Homo sapiens: one gene and its partners. The protein of the gene in region 4 interacts with the protein of the main gene of each other region in a biochemical or structural test. Each region holds a gene or a part of one and is shown on either strand. Other genes may lie near its edges.

What was found.
Region 1: the proteins of CRHR1 (region 4) and SHANK1 interact in a test that uses a peptide from one of them, tested with the Homo sapiens proteins (one large-scale study listed by IntAct).
Region 2: the proteins of CRHR1 (region 4) and CARD11 interact in a test that uses a peptide from one of them, tested with the Homo sapiens proteins (one large-scale study listed by IntAct).
Region 3: the proteins of CRHR1 (region 4) and RADIL interact in a test that uses a peptide from one of them, tested with the Homo sapiens proteins (one large-scale study listed by IntAct).
Region 5: the proteins of CRHR1 (region 4) and PARD3B interact in a test that uses a peptide from one of them, tested with the Homo sapiens proteins (one large-scale study listed by IntAct).
Region 6: the proteins of CRHR1 (region 4) and PDZD2 interact in a test that uses a peptide from one of them, tested with the Homo sapiens proteins (one large-scale study listed by IntAct).
Region 7: the proteins of CRHR1 (region 4) and HTRA3 interact in a test that uses a peptide from one of them, tested with the Homo sapiens proteins (one large-scale study listed by IntAct).

The regions. Positions count from the first base shown.
Region 1 is NC_000019.10:50,671,048-50,675,174, forward strand, and holds part of SHANK1 (SH3 and multiple ankyrin repeat domains protein 1), read right to left. Parts: intron 1,068-4,127; coding exon 971-1,067; intron 1-970. UniProt on the Homo sapiens protein: Seems to be an adapter protein in the postsynaptic density (PSD) of excitatory synapses that interconnects receptors of the postsynaptic membrane including NMDA-type and metabotropic glutamate receptors via complexes with GKAP/PSD-95 and Homer, respectively, and the actin-based cytoskeleton.
Region 2 is NC_000007.14:3,033,608-3,037,734, reverse strand, and holds part of CARD11 (caspase recruitment domain-containing protein 11), read left to right. Parts: intron 1-4,127. UniProt on the Homo sapiens protein: Adapter protein that plays a key role in adaptive immune response by transducing the activation of NF-kappa-B downstream of T-cell receptor (TCR) and B-cell receptor (BCR) engagement.
Region 3 is NC_000007.14:4,799,590-4,803,716, reverse strand, and holds part of RADIL (ras-associating and dilute domain-containing protein), read left to right. Parts: coding exon 1-171; intron 172-1,721; coding exon 1,722-2,064; intron 2,065-3,406; coding exon 3,407-3,546; intron 3,547-3,947; coding exon 3,948-4,087; intron 4,088-4,127. UniProt on the Homo sapiens protein: Downstream effector of Rap required for cell adhesion and migration of neural crest precursors during development.
Region 4 is NC_000017.11:45,790,329-45,794,455, reverse strand, and holds part of CRHR1 (corticotropin-releasing factor receptor 1 isoform 2 precursor), read right to left. Parts: intron 1-4,127.
Region 5 is NC_000002.12:205,615,809-205,619,935, reverse strand, and holds part of PARD3B (partitioning defective 3 homolog B), read right to left. Parts: coding exon 4,123-4,127; 3' UTR 1-4,122. UniProt on the Homo sapiens protein: Putative adapter protein involved in asymmetrical cell division and cell polarization processes. May play a role in the formation of epithelial tight junctions.
Region 6 is NC_000005.10:32,107,330-32,111,456, forward strand, and holds the end of PDZD2 (PDZ domain-containing protein 2), read left to right. Parts: exon of another isoform or gene 1-639; coding exon 640-806; 3' UTR 807-3,603; downstream 3,604-4,127.
Region 7 is NC_000004.12:8,282,931-8,287,057, reverse strand, and holds part of HTRA3 (serine protease HTRA3 isoform 1 precursor), read right to left. Parts: intron 498-4,127; coding exon 275-497; intron 1-274. UniProt on the Homo sapiens protein: Serine protease that cleaves beta-casein/CSN2 as well as several extracellular matrix (ECM) proteoglycans such as decorin/DCN, biglycan/BGN and fibronectin/FN1.

The DNA of each region.
Region 1 (4,127 bases), on a different chromosome or scaffold from region 4:
TCCCAAAGTGCTGGGATTACACGTGTGAGCCACTGTGCCTGGCCCATCTATAGGTTTTAGCTCAAACCTGCACCCTGCCCCCTACCCAGCACTCCCTATCTCTCTTACCTTACTCCATTATTTTTTTTCACTCTTTTTTTTTTTTTTTTTTTTTGAGACAGAGGGTTGCTCTGTCGCCCAGGCTGGAGTGCAGTGGCACGTTCTCGGCTCACTGCAAGCTCTGCCTTCCGGGTTCACGCCATTCTCCTGCCTCAGCCTCCTGAGTAGCTGGGACTACAGGTGCCCGCCACCACACCCGGCTAATTTTTTGTATTTTTAGTAGAGATGGGATTTTACCATGTTAACCAGGATGGTCTCGATCTCCTGACCTTGTGATCTGCCTGCCTCGGCCTCCCAAAGTGCTGGGATTACAGGCGTGAGCCGCTGCGCCCGGCCCACTCTTTTTTTTGTTTTCCATAGCACGTACAACTGCTAACATACTAGATAATTTTCTTGCTTATTTTCCTTATAATCCATTATCTGTCTTCCCCTGCTATAAGGCAAGCCCATGAGGGCAGGAACCTTTAGTCTGTTTTATTCGCTGACGTATCCCCATTCTAGAACAATTCCTGGCATGTGGGGAGCGCTTGGTAAACACTTGTAAAATGAATGAATGGATGGAATCGGGTATAAGAGAAACAACCAGAAAGCTGTAGCGGGGGCTTTAGCTCACTGCATCCCCATTCTCCAGATGTAGAGCCAGAGGCCCAGAGAAGTCAAGCCACCTGCCCCAGTTCACACAGCTGGGAAGGAGGGGAGCCAGGATTCATGGCCAAGTTCACCCATTTCCAAAGCCTGAACTCTTAACCCAATTTGATGAAACTATGGTCTCTCTGGGAGCACAGAACATTTCCAAGTCTGCTTGCTTTTCCTGAACTGTCACGTTCCTGGCCTCCCCCAGCCCCCACATCTCTTCTTCTGGGTGGCATACCGATAGATTTTTGCCGGAGCATCAACCCAGGTCCTGGAGGCAGGAAAGAAGGACGCTCGTAACTTGGCTGGGCACGGTGGTGGGGATCGAAGCTCGACTTTGGAGCGGCAGTCAGAGGGGGAGAGAGAGAAAAGATAGAGAGAGATCAGTCAGCGCAGAAAGGCTTGTGGCTTCACTATACGGCTGCCCCCATTCCTTCCCTAAGCCCCTGCCGTAAGGGAGAGCAGTGTGAAGACGGTGGAAGGAGGCCGGGCAACGTGGCTCACGCCTGTAATCCCAGCACTTTGGGAGGCTGAGGCAGGAGGATCACCTGAGGTCAGGAGTTCAAGACCAGCCTGGCCAACATGGCAAAACCTCGTCTCTCTACTAAAAATACAAAAATTAGCCAGGCATGGTGGCAGGCGCCTGTAATCCCAGCTACTCGGGAGGCTGAGGCTTGAGAATCACTTGAACCCATGAGGTGGAGAGGTGGAGGCTACAGTGAGCCAAGATCACACCACTGCACTCCAGCCTGGGCGACAGAGCCAGACTCTGTCTCAAAAAAAAAAAAAAAAAAAAAAAAAGAAAAGAAGGCGAAAGGGAATTCTGCGGGAATGAAAAGCCTCAAGTCTGGGCAGGAAGGAGAAAGAAAGGAGAAGAAAGCAGATTTTCCATCGACTCTTGATCTGCTTCCTTCCTCCAGCCACTGCCCACATCCAGGTCCCCACCAGTGTTCTCCGGGATGGAGCAGCCTCTTCCCTCATCTCCCTGCTGCCATCCTTGATCCCCCACCCTGTTCCAGTCTGTTTTCCACACAAGAGTCAGAGGCATCTTTCAAAAAGCATGCTATTGCCCCTGCTTGAAATCCCATGTCAGTTAGGAGGAGATCAGAGGGGACCAAACTCCCAACTCTGGTCTACAAGACCCTCTATGGCAGGCACTGCTGGTGCCCCTGCAGCTGCCCTCCCCCTGGATGCAGCATCCCATCCCTCACCCACTGCTGGGAGGGTCACCTGCCTGCAGCCCTTAAGAATCACCCTCCTTCAGAGTCCTGGACTCGCCCAGTCCGTTATGTGTCCCTGCTTCCTGGAGCAGCCCACAGCCCACGATGGACGGATACGGAGGCCCGAGGCAGCACTAAAGCCGGGGTGCCCAGCCTGACCCCATGGGTTCCCACTCCAGCGTGAACCGTGTCTGCTTGACTTCCTTCCACAACCCCAGCCAGTCTCCCACACTCCCTGAAGGTTCCCCCGTAGCAAACCCTTGGTACAGGAATCCCCACCTCCGGCTCCCGTTCTAGGGAAGCCCACACGAAGACAGGTCCTGCAGGCGGGACCCAGCCCTGCCCCCATTTCCCACTTGCTCCCTTGGTCCACCTCCACCCCCACCTCTTCCTTCTCCTCTGTCAGCCCCAGGTCTACCCTCATTGGAGAACACCTGCGAGCCCTGGTTCTCTCGGCAACAGCTTTCCCTCTTATTGTCACAGTTCCTTTTCAGCGCGAAGTTCTCCTCGGCGAGACCTTCCCCGGCCCCCTACCCAGACTGCACTTCCCTCTGTCCCATTTTCTTCACAGCATCTCTCTTCCCCAGAAACCATCTTGTTTACTTGCTGTCTGTTTCCTCCACTAGCCTAGAAACTCCCTGAAGGCGGGGCTGATGTATCCCAGGCATCGCACCTACAGTGTCTAGGGCCCATGATGCTTTTAGGGGAAGTGTTTTCATTTCTTTTCAAAGTAGAAGTGAAAGAAAAAAAGAAAAGAGAAAATTGTACCCTGGATAATATCGGTCTTTGCAGCAACAAAGTCATAAAATTTAAACTTTTTTTTTTTTTTTTGAGACAGGGCTGGAGTGCAGTGGCGTTAACACGGCTCACTGCAGCCTTGGCCTCCCGGGCCCAAGCGATCCCAACCCCAACCTTCTGAGTAGCTGGGACTATAGGCAGGCACAATCACATCCAGTTAATTTTTAAATTTTTTTGCAGAGGCGAGTTCTTGCTATGTTGCCCAGGCTCATCTCAAATTCCTGGGCTCCAGCGATCCTCCCACTTTGGCCTCCCCAAAAGTTCTCAGATTACAGGCATGAGCCACCGTGTTGGCCTATTTTTTTTTTTTTTAATGCAGAAGGGCAAAAGTGCCTAAGGTTCATGGAAGTCATTATGAAACCTGCCTGAGGGTAGGGTAGTGACTTTATCAGTCTCCTTTCCTACTGAGTCCCCGGTCCCCGCATAGGGCCTGCTGTTCTACAAGCAAGTGTTAGATGAGTAACAGGGAGAATCAGCCAAGGTCAGGCACTTCGGGGCCCTGACTCCCCAGCTTCTGCCAGGTCACCCCATGTGTCTCCCTTCTCCATCTTTGAGACCAGAAGTGCAGAGAAAGGGAGCCCTCTCGGAATGAAGTTCGCACCTTTGGGATGAACCCTTACTTCCTGCACTTCCCACTATACCCCCTCCTGCCTCTTTCCTCCAGCCATTCACAACCATTCCCAGTTCCCTCGCTTCTCACTTCCGAGACTCTGCATGGAGCATCCTTTCCCTGGGCTCTGGGCTCTGCTTGGGAAAGCTCTGTTATCTTAGCCCTCCACCCTGGCCCGGCTACCCGCTTCCTTTAGGCCTGCAGTGCCCCCCTAGAGCAGCCACTAGCCATTCAACTGTACATTTCAGGCCAACGTGGTGGCTCATGCCTGAAATCTCAACATTAGGGAGGATCGCTTGACCCCAGGAATTTGAGACCAGCCTGGGCAGCATAGGGAGACTCTGTCTCTACAAAAATAAAAATTACAAAAATTGCTGGGCACGGTGGCTCATGCCTGTAATCCCAGCACTTCGGGAGGCCAAGGTGGGCAGATCACCTGAGGTCAGGAGTTCGAAACCAGCCTGGCCAACATGGTGAAATTCCACCTCTACTAAAAATACAAAAATTAGCTGGGAGTGGCGGCATGTACCTGTCATCCCAGCTATACAGGAGGCTGAGGCAGGAGAATCACTTGAACCCGGGAGGCGGAGGTTGCAGTGAGCCGAGATTGTGCCACTGCACTCCAGCCTGGGTGATAGAGCAACACTCGGTCTCAAAAAAAAAAAAAAAAAAAAAAAATTAACCAGGCATAGTAGCACATGCCTGTCATCTTAGTTACTTGGGAGGCTGAGGTGGGAGGATCACCTGAGTGCAAGAGTTCAAGGCTT
Region 2 (4,127 bases), on a different chromosome or scaffold from region 4:
TAGCCAGGCATGGGGGTGAGCACCTGTAATCCCAGCTACTCGGGAAGCTGAGGCGGGAGAATCACTTGAACCCGGGAAGTAGAGGTTGCAGTGAGCCACGATTGTGCCACTGTACTCCAGCCTGGCCAACAGAGCAAGACTCTATCACAAATTAATAATAATAATGATACCACCCCTAGATTAGCATAGACCAAAGTGTTTCCAAACGCACCAAATGTGTCAAGGGGTTCTGCAGGCTTCTGCTTTTAAGTTTTACTTCTGACTTGCTTATTCAGAGGCCAGGAGGGAGAACAGAGAGAGATGAGCTAAATGCAAAACAGAGTATATGTGGCAAAGAGCTATTTCCTTAATTTACTAAGAACTCTTGTAAACCAATGAGACATGGGAACTGGCACACTTTTTCTCGAAAGCTCCAAATAGTAAATATTTTAGGCCTTGTGAGCCAGAGGGTCTCTGTCGAAGCTAGCAACTCTGTCCTTGCGGGGTGGAGGCGGCTGCAGTTGGGAGTGAGTATGGCCACCTTCGGCACAGTGGATGGCACAGGACTGGACCCTCAGTGGGAGTGTCCAGACCCCAAAATTAGAGAATTCAACCAATGGAAAAAATGGTGAAAGGGTACAAACACACGGAATATGAGCAGGTCAGTCAGCATGCTTCGTTTGTAATTAAATCCATGTGAAGTAATACAACAGGGACATAGCGTTTTCCACCTGTCAGACTGGCAAACATCAAAAAGTTTGATAGGCCAGGCGTGGCACCTCTCACCTGTGATCCCAACACTTTGGGAAGCCCAGGTGGAAGGATCACTTCAGCCTAGGAGTTCGAGACCAGCCTGGGCAACATAGTGAGATCCCACCTCTACAAAAAAACTTTAAAAAATTAGCCAGGCATGGTGACACACACCTGTAGTAGTCCCAGCTCCTCCAGAGGCTGAGATGGGAGGATCACTTGAGCCCAGGAGTTTGAGGCTGCAGTGAGCTAGGATTGCACTACTGTACTCCAGCCTGGGCAGTAGAACAAGACCCCATCTCTAAAAATAAAATAAAAAAGAAAGGTAAAACTGATTGCCCATCAGTAATAATAATAATAATAATTTTTAAAAATTAAGGTATAACACACACACAGTACAGTCTTAAGCGTACAAACAGCTTGACGGGCCTTCACATGCCCTTCTGGAGCCAATCACCCAGATCAAGATTTGGGTCCTTTCTAGGTTCTGGGGAAGTGCCATATCCCCTCCCAGTCGTTACCCCTCCCCTGTCCCCTAAGGGAGGACCCTTCCAACCTCTATCACCATCCCTGTCCTTGAACTTGACGTGGACGGAGTCACATTCAATGTTTCTTTTTCATTGCTACACAGTATTTCATGGCATAAATTTACCGCAATAGGGGCAGGCGCTGTGTCTCATGCCTGTAATCCCAGCACTTTGGGAGGCCAAGGCAGGCAGATTGCTTTGAGCTCAGGAGTTCAAGACCAGCCTGGGCAACAGGATGTAACCGTCTCTACAAAAATTCAAAAATTAGCCAAGCATTGGTGGCTTGCGCCTATAATCCCAGCTACTCGGGAGGCTGAGGCTGGAGAATTGCTTGAGCCCAAGAAAGCAGAGGTTGCAGTGAGCCAAGATCGCACCACTGCACTCCAGCCTGGGTGACAGAGTGAGACCTGTCTCAAAAAAAAAAAAAAAAAAATTACCACAATTTACTTATCCACCTGACCGTTGATAAATGTTTCTGTTGCTTGCAGTTTGGGGCTGTTATGATGAAACCACTGTGAACATTCTTATACGTGTCTTGGTGGTGATGGCCCTTTAAAAAAAAAAATCTGGAAGCAGCCTGGGCACAGTGGCTCATGTCTATCATCCCAGCACTTTGGGAGGCTGAGGCAGGAGGATGGCTTGAGCCTAGTTGTTTGAGACCAGCCTGGGCAACATAGTAAGACCCCATCTCTACAAAAAATGTAAAAGTTAGCTGGTGTAGTGGTCATGCCTGTGGGCCTAGCTCCTCAGGAGGCTGAGGTGGGAGGATCACTTGAGCTCAGGAGGTAGAGGCTGCAGTGAGCTGTGATTGCACCACTGCACTCCAGCCTGGGCGACAGAAGGAGACCTTGTCTCTGAAATTTAAAAAATCCAAGGAGGGCTGGGCGCGGTGGCTCACGCCTGTAATCCCACCACTTTGGGAGGCCGAGGCAGGCGGATCAAGAGGTCAGGAGATCGAGACCATCCTGGCTAACACGGTGAAACCCTCTCTCTACTAAAAATACAAAAAAATTAGCCAGGCGTGGTGGTGGGCACCTGTAGTCCCAGCTACTCGGGAGGCTGAGGCAGGAGAGTGGCGTGAACCCGGGAGGCGGAGGCTGCAGTGAGCCGAGATCGCGCCGCTGCACTCCAGCCTGGGTGACAGAGTGAGACTCCATCTCAAAAAAAAAAAAAAAAAAAAAAAAAAATCCAAGGGCAAGCAGAGGCCCTGTGCCGGCGTTTTCTGCGGTTTAGTAAATTGCTATGTCAGTGGATAAATGCTGCTGTGAAGTAAAACTGTAACGTTATTGACATTAGTGCTTCGTTGCCTGCCTCTGCGTAAGGATTATGTGATTCGTGGAAATCTTCTAAGAAGAAATGGCCTATTTTTAAAGGGATTCAGGTATCGTTGGTTCCGGGGGAAACGTTCAGCAGAATAATAACGATACCTCACACCGCCTTCCAAGACTCCTGACTTCAATTCTCAGACGCGTTTCAAGAAGCAGCTTGATACCCTGCGGAGAGCCTCTGCGAGCTGACATGGGGGTCCCTGTTTGCCAGTGAACAGGCACCGTGATCCCCGTTTGAGTCCCTGAGGCACGCAGAGGCTCTTGGCTCTTCGTAGGAGAGTTCTCGATCTTTGAAAAATGTTTCTCCTCCTTCTTAAAGGACGGCCTTTTACCGGGCCCTGTTCCGAGTGTTCTGAGCCCGGGGAGGTCTTAGACTGGCGAAGAGCATGACCTAGTGGGGAAAGGACCCAGCTCCGGTACAAGCAGAAGGCCGTCTGTGCGCCGGGGACGGGTCACCGTGTCTCCTCACTCATTTTATGTGGAAGTTTGCTGTAATTTTGTCTTGCTCTGTTGCCCAGGCTGGAGTGCAATGGTGCCATCATAGCTCACTGCAGCCTCAGCCTCCTGGGTTCAAGCAATCCTGTCACCTCAGCCTCCCAAGTAGCTGCGACTACAGGCATGTGACACCATGACCGGCTAATTTTTTTATTTTTTGTAGAGATGAGGGTCTTGCTATGTTGCCCAGGCTGGTCTCGAACTCCTAGACTCAAACTATCCTCCAGCCTCAGCCTCCCAAAGTTCTGGGATTACAGATGTGAGCCACCGTGCCCAGCCCTGTATCTTTCTTAAGTAATTTGTACATATATACATATTATTTTTAAAAAATTATATATGTAATTATATGTATAATTATATATTTATATATAATTGTATATAATATGTATAATTATATTTGTATAATATCTATTTATATAATTTATATATATAATTTAGTAATTATATATATACAGTTCTATTTTCTTTGACACAGAGTCTCACTCTTGTTGCCCAGGCTGGAGTGCAGTAGTGTGATCTCAACTCGCTGCAACCTCCACCTCGCGGGTTCAGGCAATTCTCCTGCCTCAGCCTGCTGAGTAGCTGGAATAACAGGTGTGTGCCACCATGCCCAGCTAATTTTGTATTTTTAGTAGAGATAGGGTTTCACCATGTTGGCCAGGCTGGTCTCGAACCCCTGACCTCAGGGGATCCGCCCGCCTCAGCCTCCCAAAGTGCTAGGATGACAGGCATGAGCCACCGTGCCCAGCTGTAATTTTAAAATATATTTTAAAGATCAACCTTATGTCTTGTGGCAGTCAGACTAATGGGCCTCGGAGGCCCTCCTCCCACTGCACTGGTGGCCCTACTTCCCCCTTCCGCCTGCCTAGGGCCTCCTGCCTCTGCGCCTGGCACTTCGCCCTGCCCTGTGCCTGAGATGATGATCCTGCCACCTGCCAAGGCCCACTCTGCACAGGCACCAGAGCCCACCTCTCTCCAATCAAAGACGCTTCTCGAGCAACTGTCTTCTCTCTCTGCTGCATCTTCCATTCTGTATTCCCTCTCTACG
Region 3 (4,127 bases), on a different chromosome or scaffold from region 4:
GTCCTGCCCAGCGACGGCTTCCAGGTGGACTTGGAAGCCAACTGCCTGGACGACAGCATCTACCAGCACCTGCTCTACGTCCGCCACTTTCTGTGGGGTCTGCGGAGCAGAGCCAGCCCCGGCAGCCCTGGCAGGCCTGGCAGTGGGGCCTCCCAGCCAGTGTGCCCCGAGGTACCCGGGGAGGGGGCCCCCCAGCCAGCGTGCCCCGAGGTGCCCGGGGAGGGGACCCAGCCAGCGTGCCCCGAGGTGCCCGGGGAGGGGGCCACCCAGCCAGCGTGCCCCGAGGTGCCCGGGGAGGGGGCCCAGCCAGTGTGCCCCGAGGTGCCCGGGGAGGGGGCCACCCAGCCAGCGTGCCCCGAGGTGCCCGGGGAGGGGACCCAGCCAGCGTGCCCTGAGGTGCCCGGGGAGGGGGCCACCCAGCCAGCGTGCCCCGAGGTGCCCGGGGAGGGGGCCCCCCAGCCAGCGTGCCCTGAGGTGCCCGGGGAGGGGGCCCAGCCAGTGTGCCCCGAGGTACCCGGGGAGGGGGCCCCCCAGCCAGCGTGCCCCGAGGTGCCCGGGGAGGGGACCCAGCCAGAGTGCCCCGAGGTACCCGGGGAGGGGGCCCCCCAGCCAGCGTGCCCCGAGGTGCCCGGGGAGGGGACCCAGCCAGCGTGCCCCGAGGTACCCGGGGAGGGGGCCCCCCAGCCAGCGTGCCCTGAGGTGCCCGGGGAGGGGGCCCAGCCAGAGTGCCCCGAGGTACCCGGGGAGGGGGCCCCCCAGCCAGCGTGCCCCGAGGTGCCCGGGGAGGGGACCCAGCCAGCATTCCCCGAGGTGCCCGGGGAGGGGGCCCCCCAGCCAGAGTGCCCCGAGGTGCCCGGGGAGGGGGTCCAGCCAGCATTCCCCGAGGTGCCCGGGGAGGGGGTCCAGCCAGCATGACCCGAGGTGTCTGGGGAGGGGGCCCCCCAGCCAGCGTGCCCCGAGGTGCCCGGGGAGGGGGCCCAGCCAGCGTGCCCCGAGGTGCCTGGGGAGGGGACCCAGCCAGCGTGCCCCGAGGTACCCGGGGAGGGGGCCCCCCAGCCAGAGTGCCCCGAGGTGCCCGGGGAGGGGGTCCAGCCAGCATGCCCCGAGGTACCCGGGGAGGGGGCCCCCCAGCTAGAGTGCCCCGAGGTGCCCGGGGAGGGGGTCCAGCCAGCATTCCCTGAGGTGCCCAGAGAGGGGGTCCATCCAGCATGCCCCGAGGTACCTGGGGAGGGGGCCCCCCAGCCAGCGTGCCCCGAGGTGCCCGGGGAGGGGGCCCAGCCAGCGTGCCCCGAGGTGCCCGGGGAGGGGGCCCAGCCAGCGTGCCCCGAGGTACCCGGGGAGGGGGCCCCCCAGCCAGCGTGCCCCGAGGTACCCGGGGAGGGGGCCCAGCCAGCATGCCCCGAGGTACCTGGGGAGGGGGCCCCCCAGCCAGCGTGCCCCGAGGTGCCCGGGAGGACAGGAGAAGGGTTGGAAGCTGGGCTGGGGGCAGCAGGCGGGAGCTCTGGGAACCCCGGGAGTCCTGGCCCAGCGCAGGCTGTGCTCCGGATGGCGGGGAAGCCCCTTTGCCTCTTGCGCGTCTCAAGCTGCACAGGCTGCGGGAGTCCTTTGCTGACCTCTGCCCCGCGGCCTGGCGGCCCTTCTGCTGCAGGCTGCCCAGTTGCCCGAGTGCTGTGTCCACCTGGCCACTCCTCTACCTGAGCTGTCACCCTTCCTCTCCCTAGGGTATGCACCACGTGGTCCTTGACGGGCACCTGGAGGCCCCGAGCTGCCCCCTGGCTCCCAGGGACCCTGGCCCAGCAGCCCGGGAAGTGGCCCCGGAGCGTACTCTTCCCTTGAGGGGGGCTCCCTGGGCACAGGCCCCCCCTGGAAGGCAACCCAGCCGTGGGGGCTCCCAGGCTGGCCCCCCGCACACGGACTCGTCCTGCTTGCTCACGCCTCCCAGCACTCCACTTGGCCCTGAGCCTGGGGACCCCGACTGGCCAGAGTCCGGCGGCCCCTGTGGAAAAGCGCTCCCAGAGAGGCAGAGGAACGGACTCAGCGGCCTCCGGGGTGCAGCTCCGGAAGGTGAGCCCTGCCTGGTGCTCAGGCGGGAACCCACCCCAGACCCCGCACAGCACCCTGATGGCCGGTCCCCTGGGATCGTTCCCCCCTTGGGTCCTAGGTTTCCTTACCTGCCCCACAGACACCTGCAACCTGAGACGGGGCCAGATGGAGAGGGCTCAGGGCTGCTCAGCCCCCAGCAGCTGGGCCACACGGTCGCTCAGTCGCTGACACGTCTTGGGCAGATACTCACTGTGATCTGGGAGGGAGAGAGTCTAGAAAGTGGCTCAGAGTCACTCCTGCACTGGGCAGAGGAAGGGATGGCTGAGCCAGTGGAGAGGATGTGCTGAGGGGGAACCCAGGGGTCTTCAGGGAGAAGGTGGAGCTGGAGTCCTCCAGGGCAGGGCCTGTGTGTGCCTGTGTGCTTGTGCGTGTGGATATGTGTGCTCACAGGTGCATGGGTGTGCTGGTGCGTGTGTGCATGGGTGTGTGCATCTGCATGGGTGTGTCTGCATGGTGTGCATTGTGTGTGCATCTCTGCATGGGTGTGTCTGCATGGTGTGCATTGTGTGTGCATCTGTGCATGGGTGTAAGTGCACGTGTGCATGGGCATGCTTGCACATGTGTGCATGGCTGTGAGTATATGTGTGCATGAGTGTGTGTGCGCAGCTGGCCTAGGCTGGGGAGGGCATTGAGGGTGAGGCAGCCCCAGCCGGCCCTGGCCTCCTGTGAGGGGCTTGGGTGTGCCTTGCAGGAGCGAAGTGTCCTGGGTGCGTGTGCAGAGTCAGAGTGTCCCCTGTGGCTTGGGGCCACCTGGCCAAGCTGGGTCCCAGGCAGGCCACTTGCTCAGGTGCACAGCTCATCTCTGACCTAAGTGCACCCACGGCAGGATCACCATTATGGAGAGGGCACCAGCTGGTGGCCCTCAGGGCAGGTGCTTGGGCTGGGCTGGGCTAGGGCCTGGGGCCCCGGTCTGGTCAGCGGTGGGAACCCTCAGGGTGCACATGGCCACATCTGGGTGTGGAGGGAGGAGGAGGAGGAGCAGAGATTGCTGAGGAGGTGGCACAGAACCGCGTGGGTCCCTGGAGCTGGAAAACAGCCGCCCCCAGAGGGGCGAGTGTCCTGGGACTGCCAGGGGCGGGGACTGAGGTGCTCCCTCAGGGAACATGGGGGTGTCGCCCATGGGCGGACCCCGACCCTAATGTCTGGGTTGCCGGTCACATTCTGCCTGAACAGCGTCTCCTGGGAGCCACAGGAGGCCATCCCATCCCTGACGCCCTACAGAGGCAGCCAGGCCAGGACATCCCATTCCTCGTCGTGATTCCTGGCGCCTCACTCCCACCCACCTTTCCTGGCCCCCACCCAGGAGACTCTGCAGCCCTTGCGGAGGAGTCCCCTCCAGCCCCGTCCAGCCGCAGCTCCAGCACCGAGGACTTCTGCTACGTCTTCACGGTGGAGCTGGAACGAGGCCCCTCCGGGCTGGGGATGGGCCTGATCGACGGGATGGTGAGTGGCCCAGGACCCTCGCCGCACCCCCATACTGGCTGCCTGGCCCCGCCTGTTCATGCAAGCCTGGCCGCAGCTTGCGTGGCCACGTGGCTACAGGAAGGCCTTCGGGGAGGAGAGTGGGGTTGGCCTCTGCAGCTGGGAGGGGAACCCAGCCTGTCCAACGGCCACGCCCCCTGGGCCTGCTGTCTCTTGCCTCTGTCCTCAAGCCTTTGGGGTCTGTCCTGGGCCTGTGGGGACGGTGGTGTCCACTGCTTTTCTGGAGGGACGCGTGAAACCATGAGTGGGCCTGGCTGGATGCCAGGCGGGGGCCTGTAGGTGCCAAGGGAGGGGCTGCAGTGGTCCTCGCTGGGGACAGCCAGTCGGGCCTGCGGAGCTCTGAGGCCTCTGCTTGTCCCCAGCACACGCACCTGGGCGCCCCCGGGCTCTACATCCAGACCCTGCTCCCGGGCAGCCCCGCAGCGGCCGACGGGCGCCTGTCGCTGGGGGACCGTATCCTGGAGGTGAATGGCAGCAGCCTCCTGGGCCTTGGCTACCTGAGGTACCCCCACCGCATGCACGCCCGGCCCCTTCTCCCAGAT
Region 4 (4,127 bases):
TGAAGGGTGAACCAGAGATCTGGGCCAGGCAGTGAATTCTGGCCCCAAAGGAGGGCTTTAGGCCCGTGCTATTCAAAGGGTGGTGAGGACTGGTCCGACTGGTCAAGTTTGCCAACCTACCAACAATTGGTTCCTGGTCTACAACTTGAGAAGTACAAAACTGGAGAGTAAGCATTTCATGTGAATCCATCCCTGCGGTGACATCCGAGCATGCAGTCAAGACTCATCTCGTCAAACAGGGTCTAGACCAATTCAGATGCTGTCAGACTTGCCAGGTGAATCACGTGGTGCAGGCTACACAGCAGGACCACACGCCAGTTGGCCATGGATTGGAAAAATCCATGTGGTCCTTCCCCACAGCTGGTTTGAGAGCCCTGCTTTGGCTGGAGGACAGAGTGTGATGCCTGGCTCACCAGGGAAGGCCTCATGGAGGAGGCGGGTCTTGAGTGATAGTTGGGCTTAGTTCTGAGGGGAGTCCTGGGGTGGGACTCCCACCCATGAAAACAGCAGGTCTCACTGGCCTTTGGTGGGAGCAGGCCCCTTGCAGCAGCACAGGCATTTCCTCTTTCATTCTGCATTGTGGTCGGTCCAGTAAAGAGGACACAAGGGTCCAGAGAGGTCATGTGATTTGCCTAAGGTCACCCATCCAAGAAGTGGCTGAGTCAGCTCCAACCCCAGGTCTCCTGCCCTGTCAGCTTTAGGGACAGTGGTCCTTCCTCCAGGGTGCATGTGAGCCCCACCACTCCTAGGCCCCCCTGCCCTGCATTTCACAGCCTTGCAGCAGCTTCCACAGTCAGGCCATGAGGCCCCAGCCATCAGGAGAGAAAAGACGCCCCAGGCTGCACCCCCACACCGACTCACAGGGAGCTGGAGGGGTGGGATGCCAACGGACGGGATCTCACGAAGGTACCAGGAATGCCAGTGCTCTTGGCGCCCCTGCCTTGCCTGGCTACTCCTGCCTCATGACCAGCAGAACCAGGACAGCACCAGGGAGGGAACCCCAGGATGCCACCTAGGCCGCCTCCCCAGTCCCCATTTGGAGGCTAGAGTGCCCTGACCCTGCTCTCTGGAGGCCCCAGCTTCTGAGACCTTCTTGCCCCTTTGTTTCTAAGCCCAGGGCCACAATTCCCTCTAGCAACATCTCCCACCATCCCTGTCCAGAACCGCTCATGAAGCAACATGCTGCCCTTGCGTGCACGTGGACAACGCCCCCAGTGCTATGGGGACCGGAGGCGGAACACAGGGCAGTGCTGGAATCTTTTAATGTTACTAAGCCGCGCTGCCGCGTAGCCCTTGATAAGCCGTTGAGTCACAAATCCACACGCGGAGGCAGAGAGGGACCTATCTGTCTGGCTTGCCACTTGTGTCTTCTGTCGCCATAGCACTTCCACACTCAGACAGACGTTCATTGGGGAGTGGGAGCAGGGAGAGACCCTCCATTTAGTTCAGCATCTACTGTGCACCTACTGTGTGCACAGTTCTGGACTAAGTTCTGGGCACACAGAGGTTTTGTTATTTTTTTGTTTTGTTTTGTTTTGTAAGGGAATCTTTCTGGTCTAGGCAGAGCTCATAGTCTACGGTGGGAACAAGGGCTCAGGTTAGATGTGGGTCACCAGGGGTCCATGTGGAATCTGGTTAGTAGGTGTTTTTGAGCCCCCTGTGGGGGGATACATCAAAGAGCTGTAAGACCCCATGTTGTGGGACAGCCCAGGATCCACGATGAGCTAGAGGCTCACACCAGGGGACGGGATGAGGTGAGAACAAAGGAACAACCAGTGAGAGACAGATTTAGACTGGAGGGCTTCCTGGAGGAGGAGGTGGGGCCAGTTCAGGAAGACTTTGGTGGACATGACAGATGAAGATTGGCACAGAAAGACTTGGGGGCAGAAGCTCCTGTAAGAGAAGTGTCATATATGTATATTCTGCTGGGTAGGGGTTGGCAGGGGAGGAAGGAGAACAGTGCGACTCAGGCAGAGGGCCAGGAGTGAGGAGCAAGAGATTAGGGGAGCATCAGGTTCTTTCCCCTCTAGAAGGGGATGGGAGGACTCAATGGGGTCACTTGTGTGGGCCTTAGTGCAACAGCAGCTCAGTAAATGGCGCACCTGGCCAGTAAACAGTGTACCTGCTTAAAAGAACCTGGGAGGCGTAGGCAAGGGACAGGAGCAGAGTTGGCAGAAAGAGGAAGGGGAAGGGCGTGGCTTAGACCAAGACCAAGCCCAGGACGCAAGGACCAGCCTCCCTCCAAGGACCAGCCTTGCCCTACCCGTCTGGGAAGATGAAGGAGTGGCTGAGTCTCTCGGGCTCCCAGCCAGGCACGGGCAGCTGAGGGATGCCGGGGAGGCTGTCTAACCTGCTAGTCACTCACCCAGCTAAGCCCGTGGTCCCCAGGTGCCCAGCTGCTCCTCTGGAAGTCAGCCTCTAACCCTGGCCTTGAGGTGGCATTGCACACCTGCCGTACAGGTCTGGCTATGCTCAGAGGAGAGGTGGTGACCACACAGTGGCTTCTGAGGGAGGTGGCAGGTGCGGGTGTTACAAACACTGCAAAGTAGCTCACTCGCCAGGGTACCAGCGTGTGTGTGTGTGTGTGTGTGTGTGTGTGTGTGAGAGAGAGAGAGAGAGAGAAAGAGAGAGAGAGAAAAAAATGCCCACTGAGAAACACACAGGCCCACAGAGGCAACAGATCCTGTCCCTTCTGCACCCTGCTTCTGGGGAGGAGGAGCAGCCCTGGGGGTGGTGGAAGGGATCATGGCGGGAGCTCATCTGGGGCATCTCTGCGCCGAAGGCTCTCCTAACAGCTGAGGACGGCTTCGGGCACCCAGGCACCAGGATAGGGATGGGTGGAGGAATTCTTGTGAGAAACAGAGAGGAAGTTTCCAGGAGATGCCACCGCTGGCCTCAGAACCCGGGCATAGGCTCTCTTGGATGCTAGGGAGAAAGTTAAAAGCAAGAATGACCAAGGCAGGCAGGCAGGTCTTTTTCTTCTCCCTCCCCTTTTGCTTCTCTCACTGTCTGTCTGTCTCCGCATCTTCCGTAAGAGTGAAATCATCCACCCTGAGCGAGCCCTTGGGCACCCTGCCAGGCCCGTGCTCTGAGTGCAGTTGGGTCCCCAGTGCAGGGGGCCTGGACCTGTAAGGACTGTGCCTCAGATGGCCCTGGACTCTCCTAAAGCCCTTTCCCCAGGGTAAAACCCCGCCTGGACCCGGTTTGCTTTTCCAGCCCACCCAGCCCAGCCCCTTGTCCCCCAGCCACACTCCTTTTCCCTGTCTCTGTGCACAGGCTCCCCACCCAGCCTGGTACCTCTGGCCTCTGCTGAGCTAGGAAGGGCTTTCTAGAAATGAGCCCTTCACACACCTTGCCAAAGAGGCTGGGAAAACAGGGAGGGAGAGGTGGATGGATCACAGAGGGAGGGCACTCCCCACTGGAAATGGCAATGCTGCGGCCATCACTTGTCCCAGCCTTTCACCCTGGGCAGGTGCCTTTCAGCTCTGTGGGCTTTGGTACTGACCAGGGATGATGACCAATATATTGTCCCAATTCTCCTAAAGCCCCTGACATCCCAGCACTCAAAGGTTCAACTAAGATTCTCACTGTGCTTCCTGATAGCCCCCACTACCTCTTAAAACTCCAGTGGGTAGACTCTAAAGTATAGCGGTCAGTCTAGAACAAGCCCTGCCTCCCTGGTTCTGCAGCCACGAAGTGACTGGACCAGTCTAGCCAGTTTTTCTGGGCTCTGACCTAGGCGCACTGGCTCCCAACCAGACTGGCTGGGGCTTGGAAACCAGCTGACATGCGGAGGGGGGCAGATGCACACCCCACAAATCCCATCTCAAAGCACCTCGCTGAGGCTTCTCTCTGGGCCCAACAGTGCCAGGCGGGTGAGATGGACAAATTGCCTGTGCTTATAGGGCAGAAAGAACAGCCGCAAACATCTTCATTTGTCCCAGAAACAGTTTTATGGCTGCTGGGTGGACAGTTGCCAAAGAACATGTTTGGCTAAAGCATTTGAATCCGCAGTTCTACGTGAAGGGGAACCCGTCTTCCAAAGCCAGATTCTGACATGCCTGTTTCATGAAGTCTGCCTCCCTCCCTTCCTGCCATCCATTCAATTTTGTGGAAGCGGATACCAC
Region 5 (4,127 bases), on a different chromosome or scaffold from region 4:
AAGTGATGGTACAAACAACAGGTTTTGTTTTAGGTTCCAGTAGTAAGCAGCCCTACAGATGGAACAGGAGAACACTTTCTGAAGGAGCCCAGTCAGGAGACAGGTTAGAAGAGTCTTTGGGGTTGGTTCATTTCCTGTAGCCAAGCTTGTCTTTAAAAGTCAGGCTGTGTGTGATTCTGTGACTATTTAAGGACATGAGGGAGAAAAGAGTTTCACTTAGAAGTCACAGCTGTGTGTGAGATTCTAGGCTTATTTTAGATATCTAACTTTTTTTTCCCTCCTTTTTATCAGAAAGGTGACTTTGTAGGGATACCTTAAGGCGACTCCTCTTTCTGGTCTCGCTGTGGCATCGTTTCCAGCTAAGTTGGCAGGAACTGGGAGTGCTGAGAAATACTTCTGTGGCTGTTTCTGAGTCCAAATCCCTCCTGCCTAATTGCACTAAGACCAGTCTTTCTGTTGCTCGTAGACTCAGAAAGCAGTAGGGTGTTCTCCCAATTTAACACCAATTTGAAGGCCATTGATTGTAGGTTTCAGAGTTTAATGCCAAAGGGAATTGTACAGACACACATTCAGACCAAACTCTTTAGATCTCTCGACCCTCCTGAAATGCTACAATGTTCCTCCAAAGAAAACGAATGCAGTGGTTACAGGTTTGGGGAAATAATTACTTTTTTATAGGCTTGATATTTGTGCATACCAGGGAAAAGAGAAATGAGCTTTATGAGCCTCCTAACATTGTTAGGTGGCTTTTCTTCAGAAGATCACTTTAGCTCAAGAATTTTATGAATCTTTGGAGGGGACAATGAGTCATGTTTTAATTTGATTGACTTGGTGGAAAACTATAGCTACAGTGAAGCCTCTGTTCTTCCCCATCAGGATCCACGGGTGACAGTCGGTCTCAGAACCCCTACTATGCTCTTAAGATCTTTACTTGGTGCCATCCTGTGGGAGTCAACACATATATATCTACAGATCTAAGAATAATGAGCTTCAGAATAATTGTTTTTTCAATTTTTGTTTGCTATTAGGTTATGATTTAGGAAAATGTTCCTGTTTCTGAGCTTGTATTTCATCCACTGATTTGATATTGTTAGGAAACGGTATTATGGCAAGGGTGAGAGTGCCACAACCCGATGGCATAATGGATTCTGGGGAGGCTGTGTTTCTCTCCCTTGTGGAAGTCTCAATTCTCCTGCATCTAAAAGTTTTCAATGGTCTGTCCTCTTTCATCTCTCTACTCCTGCAAAAAGGGAGAAAAATAGGGCTTCTTAAAATATCTAGTGACTTGAGGGCAAACATCATTTCACGGCCTTCATGACCCAGCAGTCAGATCTGCAGCCAAGTGGATGTATGTTGATTGGGTTTGGAGCTCAATGTGCCACTCTCTTCCAGGGGGGCTATTAGTGTTCTGAGCTACAAGGAGACACCGGATTGAGTTTTCCCAAGGCCATAAATAAATTGGGAGCTATTTCCTGCTCCCAGGCACATTACTGATTATAGCCTGGTCTTCTAAATACTCTAAAAGCCTGTTCCCCTAAATGCTGGGAAAGAGTCCTGTAACCTCTGGGTGGTAACAATTGAAGGGTGAGTACACGGGCATTTATAAATCTTACACTTGAGCTGTTAATTGTTGCTTGGCTTGATGGAGCCTCTGTCTGTCACAAATATAATGTTAGCTTCTTTCAGGCAGGATCAAATGGAGCGTGTGTTATACTTCAAGCAAGGAAAGAAAACTGTTGCAATCTAGTTTTTGTTCACTTTAATAGTACCTTCACATCACTGGCTGCCATTCAGGATTAGCAACTATTTTATTGACTTTGTATGCAACACAAAACCCAGCTTTGGAGCAGTTTACCCTGAGCCTGTGTGCAGGAGGTATTGCACACTCTGGTGGCAACGCTGCAGGTGAAAACATGGGCACTCTTCCTGTAAAGGCCACTCCTTCAAGACACAGGATTCTCACCTGACACCATCACCCCTGGCTGCCCCTCAAGTGGCCTAGGCTTAATCCAGAAGGAATGTTCTGGCTTGGCTATGTTTAGTAGTCTACAGTAGTTTGGTTAAAATATGGAACATAGTGAAGAGCTGCTGGTTTTTAATGCTTCAAAACAAGTTACACGTCCCTCGTGTTATCATTTTCCTTAAGGTGTATTCAACTCGAGGGGAAGGTAGCATTCAGCAGGTCAGCAGGGAAACCGGTAGCTCCCCTGCACTCCACCTCACGTGAGCAGGGCCTGAGATCCTCAACCACTTCGAACAAATTGCAAACACTCTAAAGGTGCCTGGCTTAAGAGAGATGACAGAACAGAGACAAAAAACTTGATAGTCTGTTTTCAACAGGGCCATAGTAAAGTGTAGTTAAGAAAATAATATCACAAAGTCCAGTAAATAACACTATTTACATCTAAAACTAGCAGTTGCATCCTTCTTGGTAGCAGAATACTATTTTAAATTAAAAAGATAAGAGTAAGCTGGGGTAGAGGGATGTCCTATGTATTCAATAATACTATAATTTATTAAATCCTGTGAGTCAGAGGTATGCTAATCTCAGCCAAAATAGACCTAAATTAAACTCAAGACTTTTTTTTTTGGAGGGAATAAAGAAGGAATGTGAAAAGGCTTAAAGCATTTCAAATGTCAGTGCCTGGTTCAAACCAGTGCTCAGGTTTTGCTGTCTTCCACATCTTTTGCTTGTGTTCTCATTTGGGCCAGCTTGTATGTTTTAGAGGTTTTAGTTTCCATAGAAAATTACTGCAAAGCTCAGAAAACATTGTGATCTACTTAGAGGTTGGGGTTTCAGCTTTTTAAAGCCATAACACTGTCCTTTGCCAATTGGAGGCCTTGGCCCTGCCCTGACCTGACTTTAGCTAATGAAATATAGCAAATGCAGATGGATTTAGCCTTAGCGCCTTTTCTCCGTTTCCCCCACTTTTGCATCAAACTCTCCAGAAAGCATTATTAATCTTTCATTCTCCATACTGGCAATCATATGTGTTCGAACACACACATACACACACACACACATACTCTCTCTCTCTCTCTCTCTCATTCACTTCCATCTAATACCTGCTGGTCATCAGAGGCCATGGTCAGCTCCTCGCTGTCCCCGAGTGCAGATGGTTACTGCTTGGCACTGAGTCTGGACTTGGCATTTCCCAGGGCACTGCCTCCTGTGAGACCTCCCCAGTAGGCCCTCTTTCCCAACTACATTTTAGCCCTCAAGTGGGAACCTTAGAGACCCCAGTTAAAGTAATTATAGGCAGGAGATTTGGGGCTGACTCTGAAACCAGATATCTCCATGCCTGGAATGTGGGAGGGAGGAAGGTGAGGGCCGTGGGATGTTGAACCCTCTTAACCTGATCACCTTAGTCCTCGGAAGATATTCCTTCTGGAAGCTCTGACCAGCTGTGCACATCCTCCCGGGACTAATACTGCATTTTACCGACTTTCATATCAAAAGTGAGGAAACATGAAATGTTTACATCCAATGAGTGGTATCAGAAACCTGATAAATTCTACAAATAAATGCAGTCTTTCTCTCGGTACAAAATATTTCAAGATCACTAGTCATGTTTGCTGTTGTTTTTTTTCTTAGTCAAAAAACCTATACTCACTTCAGATGCCTCTATCTCTGTCTGCTCTGCCACACCTTAGACTTAACAGCTCTAAGAAGGGGGCTGAGGCTCCACCTCGGAGCGGGTAATGCTGCCTGGCAGAGACTGCCTCTGGACCGCCAGTCTCAGAGGGGGATGTCCACGTGTCTGCACATCAGCACAGGTTATCTAGCCAGAGAGGATCCCCAGAGTAGAGTTCCATAATTAGTTGTTTGTGTGTTCCGTTGCCACTCTCACTGATTTGAACAACTCTGAAAGCGTTTCAACTATCAGGTAGTTTTGTTTTTATAGCCCCATCTTTCGTCTTCCTTCTGATTTTTTTTCCTCCCCAATTCCCTTCCCCTTCTTTTTCTCTCTGATTAGCAGTCATGCGTTACAATGTCAGTGAGAAAAAGCTTATCAGTAACATGGAGAATTCCTAACACCAAGGAGGTCTTCAGGTTTAGAAAGGGCAAAGGTAGAGTAGACACCTTCCTTTCTGGACCGGGCTGGCCTCGGTGGCACTCAGCTATA
Region 6 (4,127 bases), on a different chromosome or scaffold from region 4:
CCAGAATCTGTTAACAATTAGAAGCTGACAGCCTGGGCAACATGGCAAGACCCCATCTCTACCAAAAATATAAAAAAAAAAGCTGTGCATGGTGGTGTATGCCTGTGGTAGCAGCTACTCTGAAGGCTGAGGTGAGAGGATCGCTTGAGCCCAGTGAGGCGGAGGCTGCAGCGAGCCAAAACTGTACCACTGCACTCCAGCCTGGGTGACAGTGTGAGGCCGTCTCAACAACAACAAAAAAAGTTGAACCTGCTTTTCTGTGTTTACTGGCTGTTTGGAGTTCAGCTGTTGATTTCCTTACCCCAACTTTATTTTGTGTTATTCTTGTTGACTTGTAGCTCTTTAGTCTGGATGTTAACCATTTGTTGATTAAATACATAGAGAGTATCTTCCCCTTGTCAGTTTATTTTTATCTTACAGATTATGTTTGGAGGGGCGGCAGGAGGGCTAGAGTTGCACTGTTTTCTGTAGACCAGTTTACTTTTATGGATATATGCTTTTTGTGTTCTAAGAAATATTTCTCTATTCAATAATATATTATTTAGATATTTTTATCACTTAAAAGTTTTTAGTTTACTTAGGATTTTTGAATACTATGAAACTGCCAAGCTATTAATTATTCTGTGTTTATTCTCGTAGGTGGTGCGGCTGAACAAGCTGGAATAATAGAAGCTGGAGATGAAATTCTTGCTATTAATGGGAAACCTCTGGTTGGGCTCATGCACTTTGATGCCTGGAATATTATGAAGTCTGTCCCAGAAGGACCTGTGCAGTTATTAATTAGAAAGCATAGGAATTCTTCATGAATTTTAACAAGAATCATTTTCTCAGTTCTCTTCTTTCTTTAGCAAATCAGAGTGACTTCTTTAAACCACAGGTTGTTGAAATGGCCAACACTGGTACAGACACGGACTATAAAAATCTCCAAGCTTGTGCTTACACATGAAGCCTGACTTAACTGTATGTGCAACAGCAATGAAATTAACTCCAGAAGCCTTCCACCTGCGTCACCCAGGCCGGGAGGGTTCCTTCGTTCCAGTGCCTGTCCCCTACCTTTATGTTATGTTTACTGATGGGGATACAAGATGTGACACACCCTTCTTTATTTGAAACAAACAAACATTTAGCTAGACCTTTGCTTCCTTCTTGCCAGCTCTCCCAACATACCCAATCCTGGTGATCAGGGAACTAAAAGTCTGAGGGGGACACAAATGTCACACCTAAGAGGACAATCAATCATTTTGTATGATTTTGTAAGTAAATGACAGAATGCTTTTAGGCACATTCAATGGAAGGAGGAGATGTAGGTCTGTATATGTTACCCTGAAAAGAGAATAAGACTTACTTAAAAAAATGAATTATGACCTGTTAGGCTGAGCTCAGGAATTGTCCAAAAAGGAAAAAGCAAAATAATTAATTGAGAGTATTTTTTAGTGAGTGTAATGTATAATGTACGTATGCAAAGTTCAACTCAATAGGTTATTGATCACCATGAAGTATTGATCATTTTCTATCTCAAAAGTGTAAGCCATAAGGCTGTTTTACAGAATAGCACTTCTGATAAGCTGTATTAAATAGCCATGAGCTTCACTGCTTAGAGGGAGCAGAAAGGTCAACATCTAAAAGCACCTTACAACTAGTTTTTGAACCTGTCTTGATAAGTGCTTGAATTCAAGACTGGTCAGTCCAAGAGCAGACAAAAATATCACAAGTCAGTCAGTCACTGGGTTTCCATTTCTGAATTTTATGCACTCCAACCATGAATTTAAACTAAATTTTTAGAAATCAAGTATCTTTCTAAGTGTCCTTGGATTTATAGACAATGTATGTACAATCCAAATAGAGGAGCTTAATGGAATCCTTTTAGGAGACTGGTTGGTTTTTTTCCCTCTTTCCCAACATGTTTAAGAAATGTAACATTCTAAGTATTGGATCTCTTTTCTTGACCTAGTATAATGACAACTGCAGTGACTTAAGTTTTTGCTGTTTTCGTTTTCCCGCTTTGCAATTTCCTCCTTTTGCCAAAAATGTTTTCCTACAGAAGACTGTCGTGACTCACGCTACTTGGGAAACTCACTCTGGCCACTCCTCCTCTGGTGGCATGAGCTGCTTCCCAGTAGCTATTCCGATTGGATATTCCGTTCGTCGTCACATAGCTGGCTTTTCTCTCCTCATGATGTACCTTATTTTCTTAGGTAAATAATTCCAAACTCTCATCGGGTCATAAAGAGGAGGAGAAACAGGGTGAGTCAAGGTAAAGGAGCAGAAATGTAGTTACAAGCCAGGTCGTCTTCAGTGGCACAAACCAACCCGTTGAGCCCTGACAACATGAGTGGAGAGTGCATTTGCCATACCTGTGTGCATGACACTAAGATTTTATGTTGGAGATACTTCTTTAAATAACCTACAGCTTGGGTCTATGGCTGTGACCCCCAGATTCATGGAGGGGCTTTAGCCATCAGCTTTGTACATCATCATTTTTCTGAATGACCAATCCCACTAAACATCTTTGAAGTCGGCCTAGAGAGGTCCTTCAGATGAGAGAGAAATAGCTGGCTTGTCTGAGTCCAGATTTCTCATCAACTGGCAATACAAAGGAAAATATGGTACAGGAGTTAGTTAGAAAGGTCTTATTGATTTTACTTCTACTTTTCACTACAGTTACAGGTAGAATACTGTAGGAAGTCAGTGCAAGGTGCATGCTTGATTGATAGATATTGATTGATTGTTTTTCAGTCTCTGGGGTCAGTTTTGTGGTTTCTGCTTTCTTGCCTAAATCAAAGACTATTTCAAGTCAACAACACTGAAAACTGCTTTTCGCCTCCACTCTTACAGCTGTGCCTAATAATAATTAATTAATAAACGCACAGCCCTATGTGAACAGACAGGAATTTCTTGTGCAATGTGGAGCAAATGGAATGGTCTCCTTCCGCAAGTCTTTTTAATCCTCATATCTGGAGTACAAGGGTAGACCTCTGGCTTACCACATACACTATGCTAAAGTCATCAGCCACTGCTACTACATCTTGCCAGAAGGTTTCCCTCGCCAACAAACAGTTGAAATTTAAGGGAAGAAGCAAAAGCTAAACTGTCTTTGACCCTAAGATAGATAGAAAGCTATTTATTTGTCTTCAGTGTTCAAGGCATGACTAGTATTTCTAATTAGCCTAATAAATTCCCACACTTTCTGAAGTGAACACTAATGGTATTGTCCTACTAAAACTGTCATTGTTTCTTTTTTTTTAACTGGTCAGTCATTCACAATAAGCTATGAGGGTAAATAAATATGTGTTATAACAAGTAAACCGTAGTTGCAAGAATATACCATGAAGATTAAAGTAGGCTGGGTTTCATTTCCATCTTCCCACACATCTCATTGAATTTGATGGTTGACTTAATTGGCACCATAACTTTGTATGATATTATACATTAACCTTTATTTATGTAAAGTAAAATGCCTTATATATTAAAGAGTAAGTGCAATAATATGAAATAGCCTGTACATTTTAAAAATGTTGTCACCAAGTTATATAAATCCACATCTCTGTAAACAACCTTTTTTAAGTAATTTTAAAAAAAATAAACACTCTGCTTACTACTTGATTTTTTTTTTCTCTTTTGGCTGTTTGTTTGTTAATAATAGAGTAATATTGAGATGAGAAATGTTTATTGTCACCTAAATGCATCAGAGGTACAAAGGCAATAGAACTCAAATTAGCCACCCTTTTCCAGGCCACACTCACAATCTTGACACAATCCAAAACTTTTCCACCTCTAAATCTTTCTTACAATTGAACATCCTACTCTTTTACCACACGCTCCCAGCCTCCTGGTCACTTCCTCCCACGTCTTCACTTTCAAAAAGCCCTTGACAGTTTTCTCCCTATCAGAACTCCACCCTTCCATTCCCTTCTCAGACCAGAACCCTAGCGTAGCACAGCAAACTCTGCCCAGCCCACAGGCTTAGATCCCTTGCCCCACTGTTGTGTCTTACCAGGCGATTCTGGACCCTTCCAAATAGCCAGCATCTTGGTTCCTATAACCGTATTCCTAGAGGAAAATCCCACAACTAGACAGAACGCTGCTGCTGTAAATTCACAGTTTCCAGCCTTAACTGGACCCTCGCT
Region 7 (4,127 bases), on a different chromosome or scaffold from region 4:
ATGGGACCACAGCCCACCCACTGTGGGCCACATGCTTCCTGGCTCTGCCCTGCACCTAGCGGCTCAGGGAGCGCAGGACAAGGAGTCCAAAGACCTGGGTTCTAGGTCTTTTCCAAGCCGTGACCCTGGGCCAGCTGCCAGTCCTCCCTGGGCCCAGTTTCCTCCCCCTGGCTGATGGAAGGTGGGGCTAGCTTGCCTCTGGGTTCCGGCGTCTGGGAAGAGGCCACCATGCCCAGCCCCAGGTGCTTCCGCCCCTCCACCCACGCCCACCCACCTTGGGATGGATCTTGATGGTGGCAATGTCCGACTTCTTGTCGATGTCTTTGATGGTGGCCTCATAGGAGTCCCCATTCTGTAGCTGCACCTTGAGCTGCTGCCTGCCCGGGGCAGCACTGTTGCTGGACACCACGTGGGCATTGGTGATGATCAGGCCGGCCTCTGACATGATGAAGCCAGAACCGCTGGACAGGGGCACGTTGCGGCCAAACAGCGGGTGTCTGCAGCCAGGGAGACACAGGCGGGCATTTAGGGTGGGGCTAGGACGCGGGGGAGTCAGGCGCAGTGGTGGGGCTGGTCAGCGAGGAGCAGAGCCAGTGTGTGGCTGACAGAACACAGGTCTGGAGTCCCTCAAGCTCCCATTTGAATCCTGGCCCTGTGACCTGGCCAAGTCACCGGCGCCTGCACCCATTCACAGCCATAAAGAGGTGATGATGATCACCTCTCGCTGCAATTTGCTGAGATGAGACAGGCTGCCTGCGACATGTCAGATGACTCCCAGCTTGCACTCGCCATCCTGACTACGGAGCACGGAGCCAGACAGACCAGGATGCTAATCCCAAGTCCAGGACCCACTTATTATCTGCCTGACCGTGGGCAGGTCAGTGAAGCTCTCTGAGCCTTGGTCTCCCCATTTGGGAAATGGGACAACAACACCTCCTCCGCCGAGTGGTGATGCCTGGGCTCTAAAACGCCTCTCAACAAACAGGACAATAATTGGCCCTAGGGGAAAAGCCCCATTGCACACACAGCATCCTGCAGGGCTGCAGCAGGTACCCAGGAAGGGAGGCTCCCCAGAGGCTGGGGCAGATTCCTGATCATCCCGACAGGGTGAGTGCTGGGAGGGCTGAGAAGGCTTATTCCCACCTCCCTCTACCCTCACCCCCAGGCTAGCTGCCTAAAGCCCCAAATGTGGCAGTGCTGGCAGCAGGCAGATGCAGGACCCGAGCCCTGGACACCCCGAGGGCAGGGGTGCAGAGGCACAGATGAGGCCAGCCTGGGCCCTGCCCTCTGTGAACGGTGTGGAGCTGGCCTGGGTTTGCATTGGTGTCTGCCGATGGGCAACAATCCCCAGTTCTCACCAGAGCTCTCTGAGTAGAAACCACAGCCCCACATCCAGCAGGGGAGGAGGCTGAATGCCAGACACAGCCTGGGACCTTCTCCAGGGTGGGAACCTTCGGGACCCCAGCGTGGGGCCCAGCCCAGAGCAGGTACTCACTCCCTGAGGCTGCTTAGTAGAGATGAGCAAGGAAAATGTGCGAGGGACAAAGTATGGAGGGATGGAAACGTCTGGCACGTGCAGGCAGGTGAGAGCAAGAGACAAAGCATGGAGGGATGGGAGCGTCTGGCACGTGCAGGGAGGTGACAGTCTCTGCAAAGTACAGGAGCTTCGCTGTGACCCACAGGACCAGAGATGGCAGCGAATGCCACCCTGTGCTCCCTCTGAGGCAGGCAGGCCATTGAATGCTCATGGGCACCCTGCAAGGGGGGTGCTGTGGTGAGCTGTATCCCTGCCAAGAGATACGGCCAAGTCCTAACCCCATGTGACTGTGAATGTGACTTTATTTGGAAACAGGGTCTTTGCAGGTGTCCTGAAGTTACGGTGACATCAGAGTGTGTCTGTGTTGTCTTTAAGGGAGGGAAGTCCAGTCTCACAGAGGGGAAGGCCATGAGATGATGGAGACAGAGCAGAGAGAGGGGTCTAAGGGCCGAGGCGTACCAAGGACTGCGGAAAACACTAGAGCCAGTAGAGGGGCCTGGGACACTCCCCCAACATCCCCCAGAAGAAAGCAGCCCTGCTTGATTAGGACCTTGACACCTTGATTAGGACTTCCAGCCTCCAGAACCATGGGAGCAAACATCTCTGTCATTTTAAGCCATGCAGTCTGTGGTACTTTGTTATGGCAGCCACAAGAAACTACTGTCGTCCCTAACTCTCAGGTCTTTATGGTGGGAAAACTGAGTCCCGAGACGCTGAACTACTTGCCTAGGTCAGGCGGGCAGGCAAAGGGCAAAGCAGGGGTCTGCCCCAGGCAGCCTGGGCATCTGGCCACTTGGCCACCCCACACGGTGACCCCAGCATCTGTCCACTCACATCCGCAGCCAGCTTCTGCCACACCCACTCCGTGTGTGCCCCAGAGTAGGAACTGCACCTGTTTTGCCTGCGGAAGCCCCAGGGTGCCTCACAGGGCCAGGCACCTGCGGGGTCTGCAGAAAATGCCCGCGGCTGCCCACTGGCCTCCATGCCCACACTCAGACCTCAGGTCAGGGGTCACAGCCGGGAGGCCTGTGCTGGAAAAGCATCTGTCTCATCTTTGCTGGGTCTCACCCACCCACTCAGAGCATCAGTCACTGGAGGCTCTGAGGGCAGAAACGGCCTCCCAGCCGGGCTGGAGTCAGTAATTAGTTGGTTCAGAGCCTGGTGGCTGGGGCCTTCCAGAAAGATGCTGCCCCCATCCCTACCTCCTGGAAGGCCAGCAACGTGCCACTTAGTGCATCCAGTTATAATTTCCTCAATGACATGTCTCAGGGCCCGGGGCTCGAGGGAAGGGCAGTGAGGGGTCAGTGTGCTGCCAAGGGGGCAGTGAGAGGTCCATCAGCACGGGGCACCGGACAGGGTGGCAACCAGGGCTGTGGGTCCTGCATGGGTGGTGCCTCCAGGGCTGTTTTGAGAAACATGGGCTACACAGCCCACAGCCCAGGGAGCTCCCAGCAGGTGTGGAGGATGTGATGCTGAGGTGCTATATGCCCGTCACGCGCTCTCACACCCCTGTTCAAGGAGCACGACCTCTGCTGGAGAGCCCGGGATGGGGAGGGCAGAGGGGCCGTGACGCCTAGTGACAGGGGCTTGGACCAGACAAGCGCCGAGCCAGCCAGCAGGGAGGCGGTGCTGGAGCAGGAATCACTCCTGGGATCTCCCCATGAGCCACCAGATGCTCAGTCCCCAGGGCCGGGCCTAGGGCAGTGGAGCCTCGTCACAGGGAGGCTGGAGGCCTCAGGGAAAGTACCGTGAAAACAAGCAAGTCCCTGGAGCCCTGGCCTGCGGCCTCTGGTGACTGCTCATTGCCGGCTCCGTGTCCGCCTGGACCCGCCGTCTGATCCCTATCAGGGTGGAATGAGGCTTGGTTCCGGGGCCTCCTCATCAGGCTGTTTGCCGGCTCTGTGCACACCCAGGGACCAAAGGGCCAGCAAAGGTGGATGGGAGAAACACTCTAAACTTCAGAAGAGTCATTCAGTCTGCTTCTGCGGGATATAAGTCAATCTGGGATGAGCCCTCAGGATTCGGTGTGAGCGATCAGACATTGGGCAGCTTGCACAGCGGGAGGTTCTGAAGGCAGGGCTCCCCCAAACCAGCTCAGAGGGTCTCTGTGATGGGGGAAGTAGGAGAGGCTGGGGATGGTGGCAGGGACCGGGGCAGGCCCTGTGGGAAGAAGGGGAGGAGGCTTTGCCTGTGCATCTGCAAGGAGAGGCCTTGCTCGGGGGTGAAGCCACACGGTACACACCACTTCCTCTACGGGGCTGGGACATCCCGCTTCCCTATTGACCGACTCCACTCATTCATTCATTCTTTTACTCATCCATTGGACACTCACTCATTCCCTCCCTCACTCATTCATTCTGCCACTTCCTTCACTAACTCATTCCTCCCCTCACTCATCCATGCACTGATTCGTGCGTTCACTCACCCATCCCTCATTCCTCCCCGCTCCGGCCACACGGGCCTCGGTGCTTGCGAGCTGCCCCCACTGCCCTGCATCCACTGGCCCAGCTCCCGGGGTGCCTACTTCAGGCTTAGCTTGTGAGGCCTCCCGAGCCCCCGGTTCCCACTGCCCCGAGCCCTGCTCTCTGCC